4 linked regions of the Homo sapiens genome follow. The protein of the gene in region 1 purifies or fractionates together with the protein of each later gene. This does not show direct contact. Each region holds a gene or a part of one and is shown in the gene's direction. Other genes may lie near its edges.

Evidence for each region.
Region 2: the proteins of KLHDC3 (region 1) and USP10 purify together in Homo sapiens (affinity purification with mass spectrometry; 3 studies listed by BioGRID and IntAct, with this or other methods). This does not show direct contact.
Region 3: the proteins of KLHDC3 (region 1) and MOCS1 purify together in Homo sapiens (affinity purification with mass spectrometry; 4 studies listed by BioGRID and IntAct, with this or other methods). This does not show direct contact.
Region 4: the proteins of KLHDC3 (region 1) and SYMPK purify together in Homo sapiens (affinity purification with mass spectrometry; 4 studies listed by BioGRID and IntAct, with this or other methods). This does not show direct contact.

The regions. Positions count from the first base shown.
Region 1 is NC_000006.12:43,017,222-43,021,798, forward strand, and holds the end of KLHDC3 (kelch domain-containing protein 3), read left to right. Parts: coding exon 1-125; intron 126-297; coding exon 298-474; intron 475-631; coding exon 632-747; intron 748-923; coding exon 924-995; intron 996-1,121; coding exon 1,122-1,335; intron 1,336-1,411; coding exon 1,412-1,498; intron 1,499-1,641; coding exon 1,642-1,750; intron 1,751-1,870; coding exon 1,871-1,944; intron 1,945-2,066; coding exon 2,067-2,145; intron 2,146-3,445; coding exon 3,446-3,512; 3' UTR 3,513-4,073; downstream 4,074-4,577. Other genes in the region: RRP36 (ribosomal RNA processing protein 36 homolog), read left to right, coding at 4,434-4,563. UniProt on the Homo sapiens protein: Substrate-recognition component of a Cul2-RING (CRL2) E3 ubiquitin-protein ligase complex of the DesCEND (destruction via C-end degrons) pathway, which recognizes a C-degron located at the extreme C terminus of target proteins, leading to their ubiquitination and degradation.
Region 2 is NC_000016.10:84,695,959-84,702,999, forward strand, and holds the start of USP10 (ubiquitin carboxyl-terminal hydrolase 10), read left to right. Parts: upstream 1-4,041; 5' UTR 4,042-4,117; coding exon of another isoform or gene 4,118-4,132; coding exon 4,133-4,153; intron 4,154-7,041. UniProt on the Homo sapiens protein: Hydrolase that can remove conjugated ubiquitin from target proteins such as p53/TP53, RPS2/us5, RPS3/us3, RPS10/eS10, BECN1, SNX3 and CFTR.
Region 3 is NC_000006.12:39,910,433-39,917,463, reverse strand, and holds part of MOCS1 (molybdenum cofactor biosynthesis protein 1), read left to right. Parts: intron 1-1,231; coding exon 1,232-1,396; intron 1,397-3,628; coding exon 3,629-3,690; intron 3,691-4,035; coding exon 4,036-4,147; intron 4,148-4,459; coding exon 4,460-4,572; intron 4,573-5,089; coding exon 5,090-5,200; intron 5,201-7,031. UniProt on the Homo sapiens protein: Isoform MOCS1A and isoform MOCS1B probably form a complex that catalyzes the conversion of 5'-GTP to cyclic pyranopterin monophosphate (cPMP).
Region 4 is NC_000019.10:45,846,129-45,853,159, reverse strand, and holds part of SYMPK (symplekin), read left to right. Parts: intron 1-624; coding exon 625-678; intron 679-774; coding exon 775-848; intron 849-4,283; coding exon 4,284-4,410; intron 4,411-5,158; coding exon 5,159-5,408; intron 5,409-7,031. UniProt on the Homo sapiens protein: Scaffold protein that functions as a component of a multimolecular complex involved in histone mRNA 3'-end processing. Specific component of the tight junction (TJ) plaque, but might not be an exclusively junctional component. May have a house-keeping rule.

The DNA.
Region 1 (4,577 bases):
CGGGCCCCGCAGGGTGAACCATGCTGCAGTGGCTGTCGGGCATCGGGTATACTCCTTCGGGGGTTACTGCTCTGGTGAAGACTATGAGACACTGCGTCAGATAGATGTGCACATTTTCAATGCAGGTAAGCCAATGCTGGGGCTGTCCCTGGGTCCCCACATCAGGGTGGGAACGGGCTGCTGATGAGGTTTGGCTGTGGTCTCTGGGACCAAGGGGATTGGGGACAAACATCTGGTTTGGGAAAAGTGGACAGCCTGGAGGGAGGTTCCCAGGGCTGAGCAGAGCTGTGCCCACAGTGTCCTTGCGTTGGACAAAGCTGCCCCCGGTGAAGTCTGCCATCCGTGGGCAAGCTCCTGTGGTACCCTACATGCGCTATGGACACTCAACCGTCCTCATCGACGACACAGTCCTCCTTTGGGGCGGGCGGAATGACACCGAAGGGGCCTGCAATGTGCTCTATGCCTTTGACGTCAGTGAGTATGGATCTCAGAGAGGCTATGTCCTTCCAGATGTTGCCTCAGTTGCCCAAGAAAGGTTTGGGTTGGGGGTCTTGGGGAGTAGAGTACCCCAGAGCTGAGGAGGGACTGTCATAGAGGGTGCTTAGTTGAGCCATTTTCTCATCTCCTTCAGATACGCACAAGTGGTTCACACCCCGAGTGTCAGGGACAGTTCCTGGGGCCCGGGATGGACATTCAGCCTGTGTCCTAGGCAAGATCATGTACATTTTTGGGGGCTACGAGCAGCAGGTAGGTCTGGGAATAAAATAAGAGGTTTAGGGTGGGACTGAGAAAGAGGGGAAGGGCAATTTAGGATGGTGAAATGGGAGGCTTTGGCTTGTTTGCAGGTTTTGAGGGGAGGGATGGAGGGTCAGAGAGTGACCATTGGCTCCCTCTTTTCTTCCTCCTTTTCTCTTCCTACTCAGGCGGACTGTTTTTCCAATGACATTCACAAGCTAGATACCAGCACCATGACATGGACTCTTATCTGTACAAAGGTCTGCTCTTTCTTTTTTTTCCCAAATCCCCACCCTCTGTTGAAGCAATGATAGGAAGCTCAGTCAGAGGAGATCCTCTTCCAGTCTTTGTGCTGACCCCTCCACCATCTCTCTGCCTCTGCCCAGGGCAGCCCTGCACGCTGGAGGGACTTCCACTCAGCCACAATGCTGGGAAGTCACATGTATGTCTTTGGGGGCCGTGCCGACCGCTTTGGGCCATTCCATTCCAACAATGAGATTTACTGCAACCGCATTCGAGTCTTTGACACCAGAACTGAGGCTTGGCTGGACTGTCCCCCGACTCCAGTGCTGCCTGAGGGGCGCCGGAGCCACTCGGCCTGTGAGTGTTTGTTACTTCCCTGTGGAGTTCCCTTCCTGCCCTCTTCACACTCCTGACACTTCCTCTCTCCTTCCAGTTGGCTACAATGGGGAGCTGTACATCTTTGGTGGTTATAATGCAAGGCTGAACCGGCACTTCCATGACCTCTGGAAGTTTAATCCTGGTAAAGAGCACTGCATTTAGGGCAGGAACAAGGAGCAATTGAGGTGGGAGGAAAAGAAAATAATCCTGAGGCGGTGAGGGATGGGGGTGGGGAAGATACCTGGACTAGGCAGGTATTGAACTTCCATATAAATTTCTCTTCAGTGTCCTTTACCTGGAAAAAGATTGAACCGAAGGGGAAGGGGCCATGTCCCCGCCGGCGCCAGTGCTGCTGTATTGTTGGTGACAAGATTGTCCTCTTTGGGGGTACCAGGTTAGAAGGAGAGAGGGAAGGGGCTCAGGGAAGTCACTAATGGGAGAGTGGGAGGTATTTGAAAAGGGGGTTTCGTGGGTAGTTTTTGTCCTACTTTCATCTCTCTTTTGATCCCGACAGTCCATCTCCTGAGGAAGGCCTGGGAGATGAATTTGACCTTATAGATCATTCTGACTTACACATTTTGGACTTTAGTAAGTATAGTTATTCCTGAATTGCTCCTGCCATCAAGGTCCCTGTCTTTGGGTGGTGATATCCAGGACTGGATCCTTTCCTCACCTTTGACCATCTCCTTTCCACAACTTCTCCCTTAAAGGCCCTAGTCTGAAGACTCTGTGCAAACTGGCCGTGATTCAGTATAACCTAGACCAGTCCTGTTTGCCTCATGATATCAGGTACAGCGAGTGGTTGGAAGGGAGGGATTGAGTGAGGGTGAGTGAGCAGCACAGGTGTGACCTGATTAGCTTGGTTTCAGTATGGAGGAGACAGACATTTTTGTTCTGCTGGAGATGTAGTGTACTTGTGGGAAATGAGATGGAAGGAGGTGAATTGACAGCCATCATATAAAACTGTCAGCAGAATAAATTATATGAAAAAAAAATACAGCTCGGCAGCATCACTTTCTGAGACCTAAGCTTATACAGTTATTTTTGTGACCATGCTGAGAACAACTGATTAAATCTTAGAACCTAGCTGCAAAGTAAAGACAAGTTTAGGAGCCTCTGGATCACATTGGTTCCAGAAGATCTGGCTGCTTCCCTTTGAATTTCGTTCTTAGGTTCCAATTAACCACCAGATGTTACTTTATGTATAATTTTTCAGGTTCAAATTAACCACCAGATGTTACTTTGTATATAATTTTTCCTGTCTGGGTCATTCTGAGATACTTCGTCTCTTTGTATCAGTTCAGTTTAACTCTTGCTGGCTGGGCATGGTGGCTCATACCTGTAATCCCATCACTTCGGGAGGTTGAGGTGGGCAAATCAGTTGAGGTCAGGAGTTCGAGACCATCCTGGCCACATGGTGAAGCCCTGTCTATACTAAAAATACAAAAATTAGCTGGGCATAGTGGCAGCCACCAGTAGTCCCAGCTACTTGGGAGGTTGAGGCAAGAGAATTGCTTGAACCCGGGAGGCGGGGGTTTCAGTGAGTCAAGATTGTGCCACTGCACCACTGTACTCCAGCCTAGGTGACAGAACAAGACTCAAAAAAAAAATTAATATGGTTGGGTGGGTGGGGAAGGCCTCAGGAAGGATAGGAGTGCTGAGTCAGAGCCTTAAAAGGATGGGAGTTAAGAGCAAAAATGGGTATTCCTGGTGGGGTGAGGCATTCCTGGTGAGGGTAAGGTGGAGGGGCTGCCTGGTTGGCTCTAAGCAAAGCAGGAAAGGCAGGTTGGGATGTTGACTGACATGTATACACAGATCTCAGGTGCCTGGACACTGCAATATACATACATACATAAACATAAACCGGAAATCCATATGAGCTTGGAGGTAGAGGAGTGGGTGGTGTTGGATTTGGTGGTGGGTGGGTTCTGATTGTTCAACCTAGTAGGTCTCTTAAGTAAGAGGTGGCTGTGGGTGGTTGACCTTTAGGAAGTTGGAGAGACTGGTGTGTTTTTAGCTTGGTTCAAACATCCCTTAGCTTGGGCTGAGGGCCCCCTCTTCTTTCTGTCTCTTATTGTTGGCCTTCCAGGTGGGAGCTGAATGCCATGACCACCAACAGCAATATCAGTCGCCCCATCGTCTCCTCCCATGGGTAGGAGGAAGTTTCTGCCACCTCCCCTCCTGAGCCTGCTGTCATCTTCACTGCCCCTGCCCATCTGTCACCCACCTGCTCCTTTGACCCCTGGACTTGGTATACCTCCATGTGGAGTTGTTGGGCGAGAGGTGTTCTCTGTGCTGTGAATTCAGTGGGGAGCTGTAGCGGGGTGGGGGCTAGGTTCCTCCCCCCTTGGGCCGAGGGCCCCTTCCCCTTGGTGCTCTGTCCCCATCCACCTCCTTTCAGCTGCTCCTGGGCCTCAGCTCTGCCCAGGGCCAGCCAGGTTCTGCTGGGAAGGGAAGGGAATGGGGAGAAGGGAGAAGCAAGCAGTGTCTGAGCCTCAGGAGCTTCCCCCTCCCCCTTTGCCTATCCCCTCCCCTCTGCTTGAGCCTTGAGCCTTGACTGGGAGCTGAAAGGAGTTGCAGCTGTTGGCATGAGACCTCCTTCTCCCCGTCTTGGGGAGGTGGGGACCAGCAGATAAATCCCACCCTTCCTTGAGCTGTCGCTGTACTCTGAAGTTCAGCCAGCTCAGATTTTATAAAAATTAATTAAAATCTCCAAACGTGTTGTGTGTTTTTGTGGAATATGGTGGAGAAGGCTGGAGTTTGCAGTGGGGGCAGGGTGCCGAGGACAAGCACCCTGAGGTTCTGGCTTCTCAGCCAAGGGTATTAGGAAACCAAATGCCACCAAGGCCTGGTCCAAGCTTCTCGGGCGTGGAACCCAGCACCCTGCGACTCGGGCAGAAGGTTGCGACAATGTCTCCAGAGCGGGTTATCCTTTGGGCCCGGCTCCCTGGCCCTCGACCGCGCAGTTTTCTGCCCATTCGTCACCACGTTGAGACCGGGAACGCCGGAAGAGGCGGGGCAGGGGCTGCCGTGAGCGGAAGCGGCGCCATTCGTCTTCCGAGCGCTACTGCCAGCTGATGCCGGGAGCTAACTACCGCGCCGGGGCCGGGGCCGGGGCCGGGGCCCGACGTCCCCGCGGGGCCCGGGACCGCGAGGAGGACGGCGGGGGCCTGGAGCCCGCGGCCGTGGCCCGCGACCTATTGAGGGGTGAGGGCATGGGG
Region 2 (7,041 bases), on another chromosome or scaffold:
TCCTTGGCTCGTGGCACCAGCAGCGCAGCATCTTCAAATCTCTCCCTCTCTCTTTCTGCTTCTATTTTCACATCTCCTTGTGACCTGACTCTCTTGCCCCTCCTTCTTTCCCTCATAAGGACCCTTGTGATTACTTGGGACCCACCAGTCATGTCATAATTAGGTTATTTCCCAGGATAATCCATCTCAAAGCCTTTAACATTACCACATTTGCAATGTTCCTTTTACCATGTAAAGTAATATATCCACAGGTTCTGAGGTTGGGGCATGGACATCTTTGAGGGGAGGGGCATTATTCTGCCCATCACACCACCTTCTACAAAAGATTCACAGAAAATGTAGGTAACTTGCCCAGGTTCACACAGCTAGTGAGTGGGGGATTCCAGATTTGAACTTGGGCCTGTCTTGACTCCAGGCCTAGGCCACTGTCCCCAGACTCATGGGAGATACCAGGTGTATTAGTCGGTTGTCATGCTGCTAATAAAGACATACATACCCAAGCTAGGTAATTTATAAAGCAAAGAGGTTTAATTGACTCACAGTTCCACATGGCAAGGGAGGCCTCACAATCATGGCGGAAGGCAAATGAGGAGCAAAGTCACGCTTAACATGGCGGCAGGCAAGAGAGCTTGTGCAGGGGAACTCTCATTTGTAAAACCATTAGAGGCTGGGCGTGGTGGCTCACGCCTGTATTCCCAGCACTTTGGGAGGCTGACGTGGGCAGATCACTTGAGGTCAGGAGTTCAAGACCAGCCTGGCCATCATGGTGAAACCCCATCTCTACTAAAAATACGAAAATTAGCCGGGCGTGGTGTCACATGCCTGTAGTCCCAGCTACTCCAGAAGCTGAGGCAGGAGAATCACTTGAACCCAGAAGGCGGAGGTTACGGTGAGCTGAGATCCTGCCACTGCACTCCAGCCTGGGCGACAGAGCAAGACTGTCTCAAAAACAAAAACAAAAACAAAAACAAAAAAACAACCAAACAAACCAAAAAAACCACACACACACACACACACACACACACACACACAAACATTAGATCTTGTGAGACTTACTCACTACCATGAGAACAGTATGGGGAAAACCACGCCAATGATTCAATTATCACCACGTGGCCCCACTCTTGACACGTGGGGATTATTACAATCCAAGATGAGATTTGGGTGGGGACACAGCCGAAGTATATCACCAGGCTCTGCTAAGCACTGAAGGCCATAGTGCTTGTTCATAGCTTCCTTTTAACATCTATTTCCTTGTACTGAAGGTATGTGTTCATATCTATGTGAATTATTTGAAAATGAAGACTGGGATCTTTTTTATTTATTTATTTATATATTTATTTATTTGTGAGACAAAGTCTCACTTTTGTCCCCCAGGCTGGAGTGAGATGGTGTGATCTCAGCTCACTGCAACCTCCGCCTCCCGGGTTCAAGCAATTTTCCTGCCTAGGCCCCCCAGGTAGCTGGGATTACAGGTGCCCGCCACCATGCCCAGCTAATTTTTGTATTTTTAGTAGAGACGGGGTTTCACCATGTTGGCCAGGCTAGTCTCGAACTTTTGACCTCAGGTGATCCACCCGCCTCAGCCTCCCAAAGTGCTGGGATTACAGGCGTGAGCCACCGTGCCTGGCCTGGGATCTTTTGTTTATTATCACTTTTATTTGTTGTTCAAGCAACTGTATGATAAAAATCAGACAAACAACTATATATATATATATATATATATATATATATATATATATATATATATGTTTTTTTTTTTTTTTTTTTTTGAGACAGAGTTTCACTCTTGTTGTCCAGGCTGGAGTGCAATGGTGCCATCTCGGCTCACTGCAACCTCTGCCTCCCGGGTTCAAGCGATTCTTCTGCCTCAGCCTCCTGAGTAGCTGGGATTACAGGCGCCTGCCACCACGCCCGACTAATTTTTGTATTTTTAGTAGAGACGGGGCTTCACCATGTTGATCAGGCTGGTCTTGAACTCCCGACCTCAGGTGATCCACCCACCTCAGCCTTCCAAAGTGCTGAGATTACAGGTGTGAGCCACCGCACCGAGCCAGAGAGACAACCATAAATCACTAGTGAGTTTTCACGTCCCCCAGTTTCTATCCAAGTGCAGATATCGCTTTTCCATGGTTAAAATTATAGCACAGACACTATATTGTATTGTTTTCCCCAATTTTTTGTTATAAAAATTTTCAAACATAGAGAAAAGCTGAAATATATAGCACTACTTAGAGCCAACAATAGTAAACATTTTGCCATATTTGCTGTCTCTCCCTGAATGTTTATGTGTGTACATGATTTTATCTTTTGTTGAACCATTAAACAATAGTTTACAGGCATTATGGCCTTCACTCCTCAACTCTTCAGAATGCATCTCCTCACAATAAGGACATTCTCTCAGTGAGCACAGTATAATTATTACACTATAAAATTACCAATAATTCACGAAGATCACCCATATCCAATCCATATTCAAATGTCTCCAATTGTCAACAAATAGTAAAACCAGCTTAAAAGACATATCAGGATCCAAGCAAGATGACACATTGTATTTGGTTATGTTTTCTAGCTCTTCTATTTTGGAACAACCCCTCCCTACCACTTATATTTTTCTTTTCTTTTCTTTCTTTCTTTCTTTCTTTTTTTTTTTTTGAGACAGAGACTCGCTCTGTCACCCAGGCTGGAGTGCAGTGGCACGATCTCGGCTCACCGCAACCTCCGTCTCCGGGGTTCAAGTGATCCTCCCACCTCAGCCTCCTGAGTAGCTGGGACGCCTGGTGTGCCACACTACATCCCACCAATTTTTGTATTTTTAGTAGAGTTGGGGTTTCATCATATTAGCCAGGCTGGTCTCCAACTCCTGACTTCAAGTGATCCGCCCGCCTCGGCCTCCCAATGTGTGGGATTCCGGGTGTGAGCCGCTGCGCCTGGCCCACTTATATTTTTCATGGCATCCCATTTATGAAGAGACCAGGCTCCCTATTTTATGTAACGTGGGAATGGATCTTCCTGTTCATCTCCTCTGCTCAGTGTACGGTCTAGCAAGAGCAGACTCTCTGTAGGTGTTTGTTGAATAAATGAAACCAATAGTAATGGTTATTAATAACAATCCCAGTAGCCAATTTTTATTGACTATTCTCTTGGCCAGTGTGCTCACGTTAATCTAATTTGAACCTCACAGAAATCTTACGCGTTATGACATATTTGTCTTATTCACAGGTGAGGAAACCAAGGCTTAGGGAAGGAAAGTCGCTTGTCTGAAATCACAGCTAGAAAAGGGGCCAAAACCCAAGGGTGGACCCACTGGCTGGAAAACAGTGCAGTTAGGCAGGGGCCCCTGTTTCTTAATAATGAATGAACCAACGACCCCCAAGGCTGGTTTGCCCGTGCACACGCACGCACGTGTGCAACACGTAGCACTTGCTGAGTGTTTGCTACTTGCCAGGCCTCATGTCAAGCACTTTACGCGTGCTTTTATGCCCTACGTTTTGTTTTTGTCTGTTTTGCTTTTTTCCCCTAATGCCTAGCCAAAGGCGTGGCCCAGGCGCCCAGGCAGGACTTGGGGAGTGAATGAAGAGTGAACAAATGAATGAATGCGCGGCAACGGGATCTTCATAAACCAGACCCTCCTCGGGGATCTAATGCGAACACTCCCGAGGCCCGGGCCCAGGTACGCTGAGGGCGGCTCGTGGGCCCCAGGCCGACCTCAGCCCGCGACTCCCGGGCTCCGGGGGCCCAGGTGGCCCCCAGTAGGTGAGGAGCCGGGCCCGCCGGCGCCTTGGCGTTGCCACCTCTACCTGCCTGCCCTCTCCCCTTCCGGATCCACAGCCAGGCCTCGGCGGGCTCCTGGTGTGCAGCCGCCCGGCCGCTTCCGCCCGAGGGTCGCGGGGCTCAGAGTCCGGCAGGCTCCAGGCGGGGCAGGGGATGTCCGCGGCCCGGCAGGCGCACGCCCACCTGTCGGCCGCGCAGGCGCAGCAGCGGGCCGGCCTCCCCGCGCCCCGCGGCGCGCGGCCAGTGCGCAGGCGCGGCGGCCGATGCGAGTGTGTATGTGCGGGCGAGAAGATGGCGGCGGCGGGGGAAGCAGCGTGAGCAGCCGGAGGATCGCGGAGTCCCAATGAAACGGGCAGCCATGGCCCTCCACAGCCCGCAGGTAGCCGCCGGTCTGCGCCTTCGGCCGGAAGGGGCCCGAGCCCCGGGCGGGCGGACGCCGCGGCGGGCGGGCGTCCGCGCCCTGCCCGGAGCGAGCGTGTGGGAGTGGGGGAGGGCGCTGGGACACGCTGCCCGGGCCTAGGCCGGAGCCACCCGCCGCCTCCGCGCCCGCCGCGCCTTCGTCCCCTGAGCCACCCGGACCCCCTAGTCCCGGGGAGGTCGAAGGGCGGGGGCTCCGGGCCCCGCTTGGGGAGGGCGTGGAGGGCGCCGAAGGGGTTAACCTCCCTGGGGCTGGACCGCGGGGCGAGCCCGGGGTGTGGAGTGGGGCCCTCCCCGCCGCGCCGGCCGGGGGAGGCGGCCCGGGGGCTCCGGGAGTCCCCTGGAGCGCAGGGGCCCCAGAGCAGCTCAGGTTGCTGCCTCTGCCTGGAGCGAGCCTCAGAGATTTGGGGGTGCCCTGTTGCCCCTTTGCCCCAAGAGCTTCCTTTCTCAGCTTGATTGATGATGCGGGGGTTGCCGATTTTCTGTTTTTTAGATAGAAGTAGCAGAGTAGCGGCCTTGGGCTGCTGTTGCAAAGAAAACTCGAAATAAGTCGCAAGGACCGTACTTTCACTTGCGTTTGAGTGACATCCCTTGCACGAATCCATCCCAGCCAGGCTGACAACTAACGCACCCTGCCTGAACAGTAGCTAAAGCTTGGGGGCCCTTTACAATAATCCCGTGGTGGAAAGAAAGAGCTCTTTTTGGGAGATGTGCGTGTAGAGTTAAGCTCTTATTCCCCTCTCCCACCCCTTCTCTCACATCTTCTCCCCCCTCCGCCATTATAATTATTCTGGACAAAAATCGGCATGATGTATTATTTGTCAGCCTTGCTTTAGACTGCTAATTTGTTGACATCTGGTCCCTATAAATTGTTGCACACTTTTAAACCATCTCATTGTGTATTTGTATTAAATATGGGGAAATGAAACAAAGTAGCCATTCGGGAAACTGATTGCGAGTAAAATCATAACCCTTCATGAGCAATTGGGTTTTGTTGCCCTTCTGCAGATGAAGTCAATCTGACTACACCTCTTTTGAAACATGATTTTCGGAACTATTGTAATGAATGCGTGTTGTGGAATCTAAAATGCGAAAACTTTTTAAAAAATTAGATCTTACGACAAGCTTCAATTTTGTTAAATTAGCTGTAGTTTAGTTTGCATCAGAATTTCCCCCTTTAACGTTTTGTTCCCTTATTCATTTACTTTTGTAAGTAGTGTAGGTCTTTGCGCCAAAAAAGGGATCAGTAGTTGAATAATTTTTACAAATGTATAGCCCAAAGATTTTAAGAGATTTGGTGTATTTAGCTTTGTTTAGACCTTTCTGTTAAAAAAAAAGATTTGATATTTGCTTTTTTCTCAACTTAAATCCTAATTAACTAGCTTATTAGAATTGGTATGAACAAGTAAAAGGCTCATTATGAATTAATGTGTAATATTCCTTGTGATTTTGACATGAAGAAAGCATCTTTAGGCATAGCTCACTTCCTTTATTTAATAAGCATCAATCACAATTCAAGGTTGATTGAAATGTTAATTAATGGGGATGGATAATATGTAAACTTAATTGTAATTTCGTTTGCATTCATTGTCCCAGTATTTACGTTTTATACAACAGTCTAAAGCGTTATACACATCTTTAGAAAATTGGAGTAGCAAAAGTTGGCGGAACGTAAATGTTAGCAACACTTTGGGTTTATTCTTTTAAAGTATGATTTAAATGCTTTTAAGTTTTAGCATGGAGAAAGTAGCAAAGGAAATAGTTTGATTTCTCATAATTTTCTTCTTCTTTTTTTTTTTTTTTTTGAGTTGGAATTTGGCTCTTGTTGCCCAGGCTGGAGTGCTGTGGTTATTAACCTATAAACTTTTTTATTTATTTTGAGATGGAGTTTCGCTCTTTTTTTTTTTTTTTTTTTTTTTTTTTTGAGACGGGAGTCTTGCTCTGTCGCCCAGGCTGGAGTGCAGTGGCATGATCTCGGCCCACTGCAACCTCTGCCTCCCGGGTTCAAGCGATTCTCCTGCCTCAGCCTCCCAAGTAGCTGGGATTACAGGCGCCCACCACCATGCCTGGCTAATTTTTTGTATTTTTATTAAAGACGGGTTTCACCATGTTGATCAGGCTGGTCTCAAACTCCTGAGCTCAGGTGATCCACCCGCCTCGGCCTCTCAAAGTGCTGGGATTATAGGCGTGAGCCACTACTGCGCCTGGCCGATTTCTCATAATTTTCATTTTAAAAGAATAGTAATGCAAACAAGTAATGGAATCATGTATGACAGGATTTAGTTACTGGTTCCTGCTCCAGTCATTCTGAGCGTTTTAATAAATTTGTTTTACTTGGTTGCCTACTGTCCTAAGAGTCTTGCAGCCTTAATGGCCATTCATTCATTCAGCAAATACTGATTGTTTATCAGATATTAAGCGTCATGGTATGTATATTACTTGTTTATGTTGGGAATAACAACTGCAAATTGAAGGTCTTATTTTAAAATTGACTTGTTAAAGTTAAATTTGTCACTGAGAATAATGGGAGGTGGAAAAAGTTACAGTTTAAAAATGTTTACAGGCCAGCGCGGTGGCTCGTGCCTGTAATCCCAGCACTTTGGGAGGCGCAGGTGGGTGGATCACTTGAGGTCAGGGGTTCGAGATCAGCCTGACCAATATAGTGAGACCCTGTCTCTACTAAAAATACAAAAATTAGCCGAGTGTGGTGAAGCTCGCCTGTAGTCCCAGGTACTTGGGAGGCTGAGGCAGGAGAATCGCTTGAACCCGGGAGGCGGAGGTTGCAGTGAGCCGAGATCATGCCACTGCACTCCAGCCTGGGCGACAGAGCAAGACTCCCGTCTCAAAAAA
Region 3 (7,031 bases), 3.1 Mb from region 1:
GGTTTGGCTGTGTCCCCACCCAAATCTCTTCTTGAATTGTAGTTCCCATAATCCCCACGTGTCATGGGAGGGACCCAGTAGGAGGTAATTTAATAATGGGGGTGGTTACCCTCATGCTGTTCTCATGATAGTGAGTTTTGACGAGATCTGATGATTTTTATAAGGGGCTTTTCCTGTTTTGCTCAACATTTCTTGCTGCTGCCATGTGAAGAAGGACGTGTTTGCTTCCTCTTCTGCCATGATTGTAAGTTTCCTGAGGCCTCCCTAACCATGCTGAACTGTGAGTCAATGAAACCTCTTTTCTTTATAAATTACCCAGTCTCAGGTATTTCTTTATTAGCAGCATGAGAAGGAACTAATACAGCCCCATGGCTGGCTTAAGTGTCTGCACTGGTGCTTTATCCTTGAGGCAAATGCTTCTGCTGCCTTCCCGTGCCGACAGGGAAGGATGAGGCCAACCTGTCCAGCTCCTTCAAATATAACTCCCCTCTTAGACAACCTCCCTGACATGTAGTAGGACCCCTCTGCTCCTGTACATGTGACTACTAAGCTGCGTGCACACTAGTCACTCCCTGTTTTTACAGAACCTTCTCCTGGGTGCACTTTGAGCTGTGGTCTCTATCCGTCTGGTCGGTTCCATCTGCTTTCTCTCTTTCAGTACTAATTTACCTTTCTGGGCTATCTACGGCATTCTTTCTTACCTTCCAATGCTATTATGGATTTTTAAAATCCTTCCATTATTTCTAGGGATATTTGGTAGAATGGAGCTGTCAAATAGCACTTAATTCAAACACTTTTGTTTCCATTATACAGAGTATCAAGACCTGTGTAGTACTTGGTTGTTAAGAGCAGAGTCCTGAGTCAAGTACACATGGATTTAAATGCCAGCTCTTCTTACTGTGTGAGATTAAGCAATTTTCATAATCTTTCAGAGCACCTCTTTCCTTACCTACTAAATGAGATAATTGTTATTGTGAGGCTTCAATGAGCTAATGTATGCAAAGCCCTCAGCAGAGCACCTAGCACAGAGCACTCAATGCTTAATCTTTTGGTTGTTTTTGTCAGTTTTGATTCTTAGCTTTCTTTTTAAGTTAGGCCTGGTTAATATAGGTCTGCAGAGAGCCTCTTTTCCATCCATCTTGTCTGGACAAAGAGTTTTGCCTTCCAGCCCTTTTCCCGGCCTCACCAAGAACAAGCAAGCAGTCTGACCCCCTTTCTGTTGTCCTTACAGCCCAGCTCCAGCGGCTGGAAGGGCTGAGAACCATAGGTGTTACCACCAATGGCATCAACCTGGCCCGGCTACTGCCCCAGCTTCAGAAGGCTGGTCTCAGTGCCATCAACATCAGCCTGGACACCCTGGTGCCTGCCAAGTTTGAGTTCATTGTCCGCAGGAAAGGTGAGCGGATGTGGATGGGGTGGGTGTCCCTCCCAGGGCCTGCACATAGCTGGGGAGGGCATGGCCATTGCTGAGCCAGGGGCCTGGTCACTTCCTCTTGGTGTCTGGGCTATCAGTAAGTCAAAGCACTTATTTCTCACCCCTCATCTTTGCCAAATGTATGTCAGGGACTTTGGGGGTCAGACGCTAATGACCTAGGGTGACCAACCTCCCCACCACCCCAGCCCCAGTTTGCCCAGGACTTGAGGGGGTTTTAGAATGAAGGACTTGAAGTTTTAAAACCAAGACAGTCTGTGGCAAACTGGGCCGAGTTGGTCATTCTACGATGAGCTCTGAAGAAACACGGGACAGCCCAGGGTGGAAGTAGCCACCCTGGGATGCCAGGGTCTGGGTGTATGCTGCCAGGAGGGGGTCCCCCAGCAGGCCCCCATGGTTATCCCTGTGCCCACCTGGGTATAAGCCCCTCCTATGCACCTCCTACTACAGGCACAGCCATACCCTCCACTCACCTGCCTCAGGAGGCCCAAGGTAGACAGGTGGAGCCAGCCTCGAGCTCTGGGTCACAGGAGACCAGTGCCTGGCTTCCCTTTGGCATGGACCTCATGTTGGGGCAAAGGCTCTTCAGGTTGGGATACCCTTTGATATTTGGGAGGGGGTACATGACTGAGGACTCTGGAGGATCAGAGGGGTGGCAGGGAGACCCAGATCTCCTTCCTCTTCCTTGGAAACAGCTTCAAGATCAGCCCCACCACCTTCTTTCCTTCCTTTTCTTAAACGGGGTGTGATGCCTTGCTTAATACCCTCCATGTGCTGAGGAAGCACTCATGGTGTCTCTTTCCTCTATGGAGGCCTGCTCCAGGTGCTGTGGAGGGGACAGAAGACACATAAGACATTGCCCTGTCCTTACAGGCTGCTAAGGGCCAAAAGATGTCATTCCATGGGACAGCCTTTGCTTGTCTTGTGGTACTGATTAAAGAGTTACAGAGAGGAAGAAAGAACTCTTAGCAGGAGAGAACTAGGAGGGCTTCAAGGAGGATGCATGCATGCTGGCCTTGAGGAACTGGAGGGTTTCAATCAATGGCACATACTCTGAGGGGGAGCAGGAGTACAGAACCTGCAAGGGCTCTACGGTGGGAAAGTGGGAGGTGGATCTGTGGGCTGTACTGCCCGCAAACACGTTCTCCCTTTTTGTCTCTTATTTCCTGGCACATGGATTGGAGACATCAGATCTTCCCTCCCATTCATACTCTTTTGTCCACCACCTGCCTTTGGAGGGGAGTGTTTTACAGAAAAGAAAACTTATAGTTCTAGGTTATCCTAGCAGCATTATTTTTTTCAAAGCTATACATTTTTCCCTTTACCCTCTCACTGAGCAGTCTGAAAATGCTGCAAGGAAACCATGGAGGCCATCTCTAGGCACCCTGTCTCACAGGTGACCACCCAGGCTGTGCAGGCTGGGGGTGCTGGAGGGGGCCAGGATGCAGTAGGTGATCAAGTGATTGGATGCATGAGAGAACTGGGCAGTGAGAAGTCAGCCTGGGGTCACATTGACTGTGGTTAATGATTGTTGAGACAATAATTGCTTACCAGCCCTGGAACAGCACCTGTGCGTAGTAGGTGCTCAGAGAGTATGTGTTGAGTGAATAATTGATGGACTGTTGAGGAAAAAACACTGAAACGGGAGTGGAAAACCTGCATTCTGAAAGATGGAGCCATGGGGCTTTGAGCAGAGCATTGCCTCACTCTGGGTCTTGGTTTCCTCCCGTAGACTACAAGAGGGTTCAACTAGATCCAGGGTCAGCATGCTATGGCCCACAGGCCACATCTAGCCCCCTGCCTGTTTTCATGTAGCCTTTGAGCCAAGAATGCATTTTACAGATAGCATTCAAAATCAGTTAATGATAGGGAACATTAACTATGAACCCCATTTAAGCAAAATATTGTCCCTGCAAAAAGAATCGCATTATTGTATCCCATTTGTAGATCTGTTTTACAAGACACTGTAGTCAGTTATTACTATTACATTTTGAATTTAGCCAACACTTTGTGACATGTACTTACACGGATCCTCAATTTTGCCTCTTGGCTTGCAAAGCCTACGATATTACTCTGGCCTGTTTTAGAAAACGTTTGCCAATCTCCAGACTAGATGGGCTCTGGTGCTTTTCTGTGGGGGTGTGGGGGAAGAGGAGAGAGGACAGAAGTTCCTGGATCCTTGTTTCTCCCTCCCAGGCTTCCACAAGGTCATGGAGGGCATCCACAAGGCCATCGAGCTGGGCTACAACCCTGTGAAGGTGAGGCCGTGCCCCTGCCGTAGATTCCCGACTTCCCTCCACACTGCCCTGGCCTTCCCCTCACCGCCCCTTGGCCCACTTGAGAGCCCTCAGCTCTGGCCAGCATGGCTGAAGTACGTGCACCCTTCCACCTCTTCTCTCCCTGCTGGTCCAGCCCTGCCGACCCTTGAGAGAAACGAGAAAATCAGTGACCCCAAGGAATCCCGTAACTTAGAGAACTGAGTGGGAGAAGCAAGGAATGGGTCCCTGAGTGGAAGGCCTCAGTGAGTGCCAGGCCCCCAAGGGTCATCTCCACAAAAGAATGCAGGGGGCACAGCCCTCATGGTCCCATTGTTCCCCGGCCAGGTGAACTGTGTGGTGATGCGAGGCCTTAACGAGGATGAACTCCTGGACTTTGCGGCCTTGACTGAGGGCCTCCCCCTGGATGTGCGCTTCATAGAGTATATGCCCTTTGATGGTCAGTGACCAGGGATGGGTTGAGGGAGGGAAGAAGGGGTTGGGCCTGCAGGTCGCATAGTGTGGCTCACCCACTGGGTATGGCTGACCTCAGGGGCAGTGAGTCTAGGATTATGATGGGCTGTTGGTGGCTTCTCGGAGCCCGCTGTGGATGTGATTCAATCCACCAGTTTTAGGCAGAGCCCCCGTCCCTCCCTTCCAAGAGGCTGGAGAACTGATTGCTATGCTGTGGCAGGGGATGGACTCAAAGACCCCGGGGCCCCTTCAACTGTGATTCAGAAGCTCCCCTTGCCTTCCCCCATCCCGAATACAGGCAACAAGTGGAACTTCAAGAAGATGGTCAGCTATAAGGAGATGCTAGACACTGTCCGGCAGCAGTGGCCAGAGCTGGAGAAGGTGCCAGAGGAGGAATCCAGCACAGCCAAGGTTAGGGAGCAGGAGGGTGTGGGGCAGGCCTGGAGGAAGGTCGTACCTCCACCCTAGGATGGAGAGCTAGCAGGGAGCTGCACTGTGGTGGGGATGCTGTGATGTGGGATGGTACCATTTAAGCAGGAAGCATCAGTGCTATCACAACCACCTCCCTGTTTCATGGATGAAGATGTGGGCTCGGCTAGGGTGGGGGGCTCAGTAACATGTCAGAGGACACACTCCAGGAAGTGGCAGAGAGGGGTGCTCATCCCGCTTCCACGCAGACTTTTCTAAACATGCTGCCCACAGGTCCCTGCCTTAGCAGCTTTTATCTAGGGCAAGCCAGGCATAGGTCAACCCATGGGTCATCCATCCTACCAGAGTCTTCTATCACCTGAGGGCCTTGGGTGGAGCTTCACGTGGGGTCCTCTGGGAGAGGGTTGAGGAGTGGAGGTTCTGATGTCATGGAGTGAGAAACTGGGCTCAGTAGCCCATCCCCTCCACTGCCCTTTTGCTCCCACTCTCCCCTGCCCAGGCCTTTAAAATCCCTGGCTTCCAAGGCCAGATCAGCTTCATCACATCCATGTCTGAGCATTTCTGTGGGACCTGCAACCGCCTGCGAATCACAGCTGATGGGAACCTCAAGGTGAGCATCCCCTCCTCCACAGGGACCCCTTGCCACCTCTGTGTTCTCATGTCTCCTCCCACCTGTGCTCCCTGATTGGAGAGGAGGCTGGCAGGGCACGGTGTCGGGGGAGGTGGTTGGTGCAATAATGTCAGGTTTGGGGGCATGATGGGAGCAGCAGGTGAGGGTGAACTCATGGCCCCTCTGGAAATGTCACCCTGATTCCTTCCTTCCTTCTGTGGGGCCCTGAAGTAGCTTCTGGTTTATTGGGAGCTCCTTTCCAGCTCTCATGGAGCTGCAGGATCAATGTGCATTTTGCCTGGCCCCCGCCATGGTTAGCCCCTTCCACCAGGCCAGGGGCTCAGCTCTGAAACCAGAAATGGATGTTACTCATATCTAACAAGCATGTCCTGTGCATTCGTCCCTGTGGGGGATGTCGGGACCCCTTCTCGTCAGGGCTATGCAGACTCACAGGCAAGACCAAACAGAGGCAATGTGTGGCAGCACGAGAGTCCTTGCCACACGCGTGGCTAGATAGCCTGTGAGAGTGCAGGGCATCAAGAGCACTACAGACCTCAGCGAGCCTTGAAGAATGGGTGGGGCAGAAGTGGGGAGGGGAGGGTGCATACATAGGGTTCATACTGGTTGGGCGGGCTAGGGCAGATTAAAGTCAGCTATGGGAAGACTACATTGTAGGGGGCTTTGGTTCAGAATGTGTTCTGTGGACAATAGTGTGCTGCGTAAGGTTCCTGAACAGGGGAGACATCCCCCATGTATGTTTTATAAGCCACAGGCTGGGTGTGATGGCAGGAAGACCAATTAGGTGGCCATTCAGTGGTTCTCCAAATATGTTAGAGTGTGAATTGAAGGGAAGGAAGACTCAGAGAGCTTGGTAATGTTCGCGGAAGGAGAGGAGGAAGGCATCAAGGTAGCTGGAAGGCCTTGGGATCTTTTACAATTGTGGGAGGGTGATGATGGTGGGTTGGGTTTAGATGCATGCAGTTTGAATCCAAAAGGAACCATCCAGCAGGTTGCTGAAAAGCTTGGGGGTTTTTCTGGGCTGGAGATACGGAATTGACTTGGACTAGAGGTGGTATCTGTATCTGTGAGGTCTTGGCAGGAAATGGAAGGTGGGATTCTGAAGAGAATGTAATGAAGAAGCTATTTATAACATATAAGATTAAGGGAACCAATAAAGGATATTGAGGTACTTGGGACCAGCAGCAGCAAAGTGCTGTTCCCACTTAGGAAGGGCAAGGGGGAGGCACTGATGTCACTGGGGCCCAGGAAGGGCTGGAGCCTTAGAAGAGAGGCCACCTCATTGGCACTTGAGCTGTGCAGAGAAGCAGCTGCTGCCAGATACATCAAAGCAGGGAGGAAGTAGGGGAGAAATGCCTGAAGATTGTTCTTTCCCTTTACCCATTGATCTCCCAGGCAGGAGCCAGCTGGGGGGCGGGAGGGGAGGGTGGTACCAGGTGAAGTCCACAGGAGGAACCTCTTTGTTGCAGAGAAGGGAACCTGGAGGCTGGTTGGGGAGCGAGGCATGAGGAATAACAGGCACGCTGAAGCAGTTAGACCTATCCTAGATTTCACTGGTATCTTCTCCAGTGGTCTCTGCCTGCAGAAGCTTCTCAGACATTCTTCTTTCTCTGTGGCCACAGTGCCTTGTGCAGAGCTGGCACAGAGTAGATGCTTCATAAGTTTTGGTGGAAGGATGGTAGGTATATTGATTTCTGGGGCTGTCTCATCCATCCCTCTTACAGAAGCTGAGAAGCATTGAGTGAAGTTTGACCTTAAGTTGTCATGCCCAGCAGCCCTCAGCTGAAGCTTCCAAGCAGTGATCACAGACTCA
Region 4 (7,031 bases), on another chromosome or scaffold:
AGGTGGAGTGGATGCACCTGGTGCCTCCCCCATGGGTGGTCATGAGGCCGTTTAGCAATAGTAGCTTGAGTTGTAGCAGCCAGGTCCTGTGCCAGCTCTTTGCTTATTGGAGGATGTCCATGGGAAGGGCTTACTCCAAAGAGCCTGGCAGGCACAAGGGCTTCAGGAATTGGGTTCTCACTGTGAAGATGTTTGCTGAATCATGGCAATGTGAAGTAGGGAGCAGAAGCAGAAGGAGAGTGGGGAGAACTGATGGACAGGTGAATGGAGGCCAAACCTCAGGAAGGCCTGAGCCTTGGGGCACTTTCCTCTTTTTTTCAGCCCCCTCCTGTGTCATGTCCTCACTATCTACCAGGACCTGTGCCTTGTAGGATCTCATTGTAGCCTCCTAACATCCCTTTTGAGTTGATGTTTAAGAGTCTCATTTTATAGAAGAGCAAACTGAGGTTCAGAGACCATGCCCAGAGCATAGCACCCTTGGTAGGGAGAAGCAGAGCCAGGCATTGAAATGAGTGTATCTGCTGCCTAGCCCTCTGCTGTCTTCCCCTCTACTCTCCTGTCTGCATTGATTGGCCCCTCGTTTTATATGGGTATTCCTCCTCCCCACCCCCAATCTCCTTCCAGGTCCAGGAGCTGATCATCAACAAAGACCCCACACTACTGGACAACTTCCTGGATGTGAGTGACTGACAGAAGAGAAAGGGGTGTGGTGTAGGGGAAAGGGGATGTGGATCCTTGTGTAGCCCTGATCCACTTTCTCTCTAACATTGGCAGGAGATCATCGCATTCCAAGCAGACAAGTCAATCGAAGTGCGAAAATTTGTCATCGGCTTCATCGAGGAGGCATGGTATGGGGCGAGGCACGGAGCCCCGGGAGCATTCTCACTGGTGGCAGCCTTCAGCTCGTGGCCTGGCCTGGAGGCCACCACTGAGAGGCCTGCCCTCTGCTTCCCAGACCCTTTCTCTCTCTCATACACACTGATTCCCCAGCAAATACTTAATAAGATGGAAACCCTGGGGTCATCTGTGATTCCTCTGCTTCTTCCACACTTCACATCTACATTATCACTAAGGACTGTGGGCTCCACTTTGAGAATATCTGTAGCATCTGACCGTTTGTCAATCACTTCCTCTGCCACTATGCAGGCCCAAGCCACCCTTTCCTCCTACCTGATGACTTCAGTGGTCTCTCTCTGGCTCCCTTCTTTTTCTTTTTAGTTAAATTGAAATTCATATAACAAAATTAGCTTTTTTTTTTAATCTTTTGTTTGTTTGTTTGTTTTGAGACGGAGTCTCGCTCAACTGTTGTCCAGGCTTGAGTGCAGTGGCGCAATCTCGGCTCACTGCAACCTCCGACTTCCGGGTTCAAGCTATTCTCCTGCCTCAGCCTCCCAAGTAGCTGGGATTACAGGCATGCGCCACCACATCCGGCTTATTTTTGTATTTTTAGTAGAGAAGGGGTTTTGCAATGTTGGCCAGGCTGGTCTCAAACTCCTGACCTCAGGTGATCTGCCCGCCTTGGCCTCCCAAAGTGTTGGGATTACAGGTGTGAGTCACTGTGCCTGGCCTTTTTTTTTTTTTTGAGACTGAGTTTTGCTCTGTTGTCCAGGCTGGAGTACAGTGGCGCAATCTTGGCTCATTACAACCTCCACCTCCCAGGCTCAAGAGATTCTTGTGCCTCAGCCTCCTTGAATAGCTGGGATTACAGGTGCGTGCCACCATGCCTGGCTAATTTTTGTATTTTTAGTAGAGATGGGGTTTCTGCCATGTTGGCCAGGCCAGTCTTGAACTCCTGACCTCAAGTGATTGGCCCACCTTGGCCTCCCAAAGTGCGGGGATTACAGGCATGAGCCACGACGCCCAGCAAAAATCAGCTATTTTAAAGTGAACAAGTGAGTGGCATTTAGCACGTTCACAATCTCGTTCCAGGGCATTTCATCCCCCAAAGAGGAATCACCGCACTCATTTCCCGCTTCCACTCTTGCACTCAGCAGCCAGAGTGACGCTGTTAAATGTAAATCAGTCTTGGCACACCCCTGCTCTCAGACCCCAGCTGGCTCATCAGCTTACTTAGGTGGAAACCCAAACTCTCACTTCGGCTTCATCTCACTTCTGATCCTCTCTGTCTCCCCTGCTCCTCAGAAGTCACAGTTGGATTTCGCAGCCTGTCTGCTTGCTGTTCCTGCTAGGGGCCCTCGTCCCCAGGTTGCCACCTGGCTCTCCCCTCCCTTCCCTCAGGTCTCTTCCTCAGAAATTCCTTCCTGCCCGCTCCCATGCAGCCCCATGTCTCAGGCACCCCACCTTCACTGTTCTTTACAGTGTTCCTCACTCATTGAAATAACCTTGATTCTTCCCGCAAAATATCAGCTCTGTGAGGACGGGGCTTGACTTTTTCTGTCTTGCTGGCCACTTTGTCCCCAGTACCTGCCTGGAGCAGTGTTGTCACCTAGTAGGGGCTGACTACGTATTTGTTGCACACGTGAATGAGTTGAACATAACAGTCACCACATGGAACACGTACTGTGCCCTGCGCTGTGTCAGGTCCTTTCCCGTGTTATCTCCGTAATTATGGCAGCCTCGATGGATACTGTGGTTATCCTCTTTTTACAGAAAGGGAAACAGGCTCAGAATGGTCAAGTGACTTGTTCAAGCTGGTCACTTGCTCATTTGTTTATTAAAGCTTTACTGGATGCTTTGTGACTGGGAGGAAGTAGACTAGCTACTGTGTATTAAATATTTGTTTGTAAGGCACTGTATTAAATGCTTGAGCAGCTTCATTATTCGTAATACTATGGATCAGTTGTTTGACCCTTTAACTGAAGAGAAAACAGTCTCAGAGAGGTGAAGTGAATTTTCTTAAGGTCACACAGCCAGAATGTGGCAAGGCTGGGATTTTATTTATTTATTATTTTTTTGAGATGGAATCTCACTCTGTCGGCCAGACTGGGGTGCAGTGGTGCAATCTCGGCTGACTACAACCTCTGCCTCCTGAGTCAAGTGATTGTCCTCCCTCAGCCCCCCCGAGTATCTGGGATTACAGGTGCCTGCCACCACACCCAGCTAATTTTGTTTTCTGTTGTTGTTTTTTTTTGTTTTTGTTTTTGTTTTTGTTTTGAGATGGAGTTTCGCTCTTGTTGCCCAGGCTGGAGTGCAATGGTGCGATCTCGGCTAACTGCAACCTCCACCACACAGGTTCAAGTGATTCTCCTGCCTCAGCCTCCCAAGTAGCTGGAGTTACAGGTGCCCGCCACCATGCCCGGCCAATTTTGTATTTTTAGTAGAGATGGGGTTTCACCACGTTGGTCAAGCTGGTCTCAAACTCCTGACCTCAGGTGACCCACCTGCCTCAGCCTCCCAAAGTGCTGGGATTACAGGCGTGAGCCACTGCGCCTGGCCAAGGCTGGGATTTTAACTCATGTCTGCAATGCCAGAACCCAAATATCCTATCTCCCCATTTACTGGGAGAATTTGTGGTAAATTTTCTGAATTTGTAAAAAGTCCATTCAGCAAATACATACCATGTGACTGCTGTCGTACCAGGCATCCATGTTAGGCTGTAGTATAGCAGTGAGCAAAAACGTATTATTCCTGCCTTCATGTAGCTGACAGCTAAGTTTCATATTTTTTGACTGATTTAATTAATATTTCAGATTGTAATGTATGCTGTGAAAATTCTGTGCTGAGCTCCTATTTATTCATTGAACATTTGTTGGAGGCCCTTCATTTTTTTCTTCAATGAAAATGACCCTGCTGGGGTTATTGCCAAGCTAGGAAAGGGTCCCTACTTTTTGAGCCCTCAGACTGAGGCAAGCAAAACTAGTGATTACAGAAAACAAAGTGCTTTAAAGTAGCAATGGCTGGTGTTTACCGAATGCTTTTTGGTGTTTACTGAATGCTTTCTGCATGTCAGGCACTCTTCTAAGCACTTTACAAGTATTGTTGCAATTTTCCCAAAAAATTGCATAAACAATTGGATAGATACTATTATTCTAAATGAGGTGAAGTCGCTTGTCCAAATTCACACAGTTGTCTGCCCCTACTGTCCCTTATGTGAACAGCAGGGCCCTGAGAGAGCAAAGGAGTTGGTGTTACAGGACCAGTCTAGATAGAGGGTTCAGGGGCGGCTCAGTCTGGAGGCACCAAGCACTGTTCCCAGCTTCTGGATGTGCCATTCCGGTCCCCTGAGACAGGTCCCTGATTTCCCTTCCCTCCTGGACCTCAGGCTCCTCCTACTTGCTCTAAGACCACACCTTGACCTCGCCCCTTTTTTCTCCATCCCTCAGCAAGCGAGACATTGAGTTGCTGCTGAAACTCATTGCAAACCTCAACATGCTCTTGAGGGACGAGAATGTGAACGTGGTGAAGAAGGCTATCCTCACCATGACCCAGCTCTACAAGGTGGCCCTGCAGGTGAGAGCGCCCTCCCCACCCAGGGCCATCCTGCCTGATATGTCTCGTTGACAAACTAATATGTTGGGGTTCAAAACCAGCATCCGAGCATACTCTTTATGGGCAAGATGTGCCACTGGTCTGTGGGAACAGATAACATGGAGAGCTAACGTTGTCTCCTAGGTCAGGAAGTTGCACTTAACCTTCATTCCTTCCATTGACCATCCGTTTATTCACTCAACAGACATTCCCTGAGTATGTCCTCTGTGCTTAGCCCTGGGCTAGGTGATGCTGGGGACACAGCAGTGACCAAGACAGCTTACTGCCTTCACAGTGCTCATAACCCAAGGAGGGAGGTAGACCTTAATTAATGAATCACATAAATATTGATTATGGAGTGTGATAGGAAAAGAACACTCTATGGTGTGATGTACATTAGCATTAATAAAACGAATGAATCCATTTAATCACCACCACCTTGTGAAGTCAGCACTGTTAGTCCTTTACCCTGAAGATGTGTGCCTTCATCACACTGAGTGGTCACTCTCTGCATCCCCATGAGGGCAGGGCGAGGCCTGGCCACTACTCAGTCCTGTCTCCAGCATCACCGAGCACTGGGCTGGGGCAGAGTTGGAACTCAGTAACTGTTAACCAAATGAATGTATTCATCATTCATGGTTCTCTGGGTATTGGCAGAGGGTGTTGGTGATTGATGCGTTGTCTTCACCTCTTTGTGTGTCTCTTCCATTCCTTCCTGGCCTGCTGGCAGTGGATGGTAAAGTCACGGGTCATTAGCGAGCTACAGGAGGCCTGCTGGGACATGGTATCTGCCATGGCGGGGGACATCATCCTGCTATTGGACTCTGACAATGACGGCATCCGCACCCACGCCATCAAGTTTGTGGAGGGCCTCATTGTCACCCTGTCACCCCGCATGGCTGACTCAGAGATACCCCGACGCCAGGAGCATGATATCAGCCTGGACCGCATCCCTCGTGACCACCCCTACATCCAGTACAGTGAGTACTGCCTTCAGCTGCCACCCCTGACAGCCCTGCACCAGTTTCCTCTCCTTCACGCCCCTCCCTCTCTCCCCCTTGTCTTTTTTGGTTTTAAATTTCTGGAACAGTGTGTGCAGTAGTTAAGATCCCTGGTGCTAGGTTCAGATCCCAGCTGCACTGCTTACTCATCATGAACTTGGGCAAGTTACCTGTCTCTGTACTTCATTTTCTTTTTTGTAAATTGGAGACGATAACATAGTACCACTCTCACAGGTTTGTAGTGAAGTTCCATGAGTGTGAGCCAGTCGATGCTAGCTAGTTTTATGGTTTTCTTTTTTTTTTTTTTGAGATGGAGTCTTCCTCTGTCGCCCAGGCTGGAGTGCAATGGCACAATCTCAGCTCACTGCAACCTCCGCCTTCCGGGTTCAAGAGATTCTTCTGCCTCAGCCTCCAAAGTAGCTGGGGCTACAGGCTCCCGCCACCATACCTGGCCAATTTTTTTAAAAATTATTTTTAGTAGAAGCAGGGTTTCACCATATTGGCCAAGCTGGTATCGAACTCCTGACCTTGTGATCCGCCCGCCTTGGCCTCCCAAAGTGCTGGGATTACGGGCTTGAGCCACCGCGCCGGGCAGTTTTACAGTTTTCTTAACTGCAAATTATAAAAGTAGGACATAGGCCAGGTGTGGTGGCTCATGCTTATAGTCCCAGCATTTTGAGAGGCCAAGGCAGGCAGATCACTTGGGGTCAGGAGTTCGAGACCACCCTGGCCAACATGGTGAAACCCCTTATCTACTGAAAATACAAAAATTAGCCGGGCATGGTGGCGGGCACCTGTAATCCCAGCTACTTGGGAGGCTGAGGCACGAGAATCGCTTGAACCCAGGAGGCAGAGGTTGCAGTGAGCTGAGACTGTGCCACTGCACTCCAGCCTGGGTGACAGAATGAGACTGTCTCAAAAAAAAAAAAAGTACTATATATACACTTGGTGTCAAGCAATATGGGTGAATCAAAAGGAATAATGTCCCCTCCCTCAGTCCTGCTTTCCAGAGATAAACACTGTTAAGAGTATTATGTTTCCTTTCAGATCTTTCCTGTGCACATGTAGGTATTTGTATGTGTATATGCATAGTGTCTGCATTTGTTTGCTTTTCTGTTTGCAAAAATGAGGCCATGCTTTGTGTTTTCATCTCAGAGACATTATAGTAGCTTGTGTCTGACACACAGCCTATTTTCCCTTGTCTCTGAGCCTGATTCCTCATTGGTAAATTGGGGATCGTTATTATGGCATCTAATTTAGGATGTAGGTATGAGCATTTGGTGTATTAATATGGCTGGAATAGTAAACATTCCATAAATATTAACTATTCTTATGTATTGTTTGACAGCCTTTTTGACTTAATAGTATCAGTGACGTCCTTCCCTGTGAGAATCATATAGTTGCTATACCATATTCCATAGTATAGTTACATTACATTCTATTAAGCAATGCTCTGTTGATGGTCATTTAGATTTTTAATTCACTTTTATTTTTTGAGACGGAGTCTCGCTCTTTCACCCAGGCTGGAGTGCAGTAGCGCTATCTCGGCTCACTGCATGCTCCGCCTCCCGTGTTCACGCCATTCTCCTGCCTCAGCCTCCC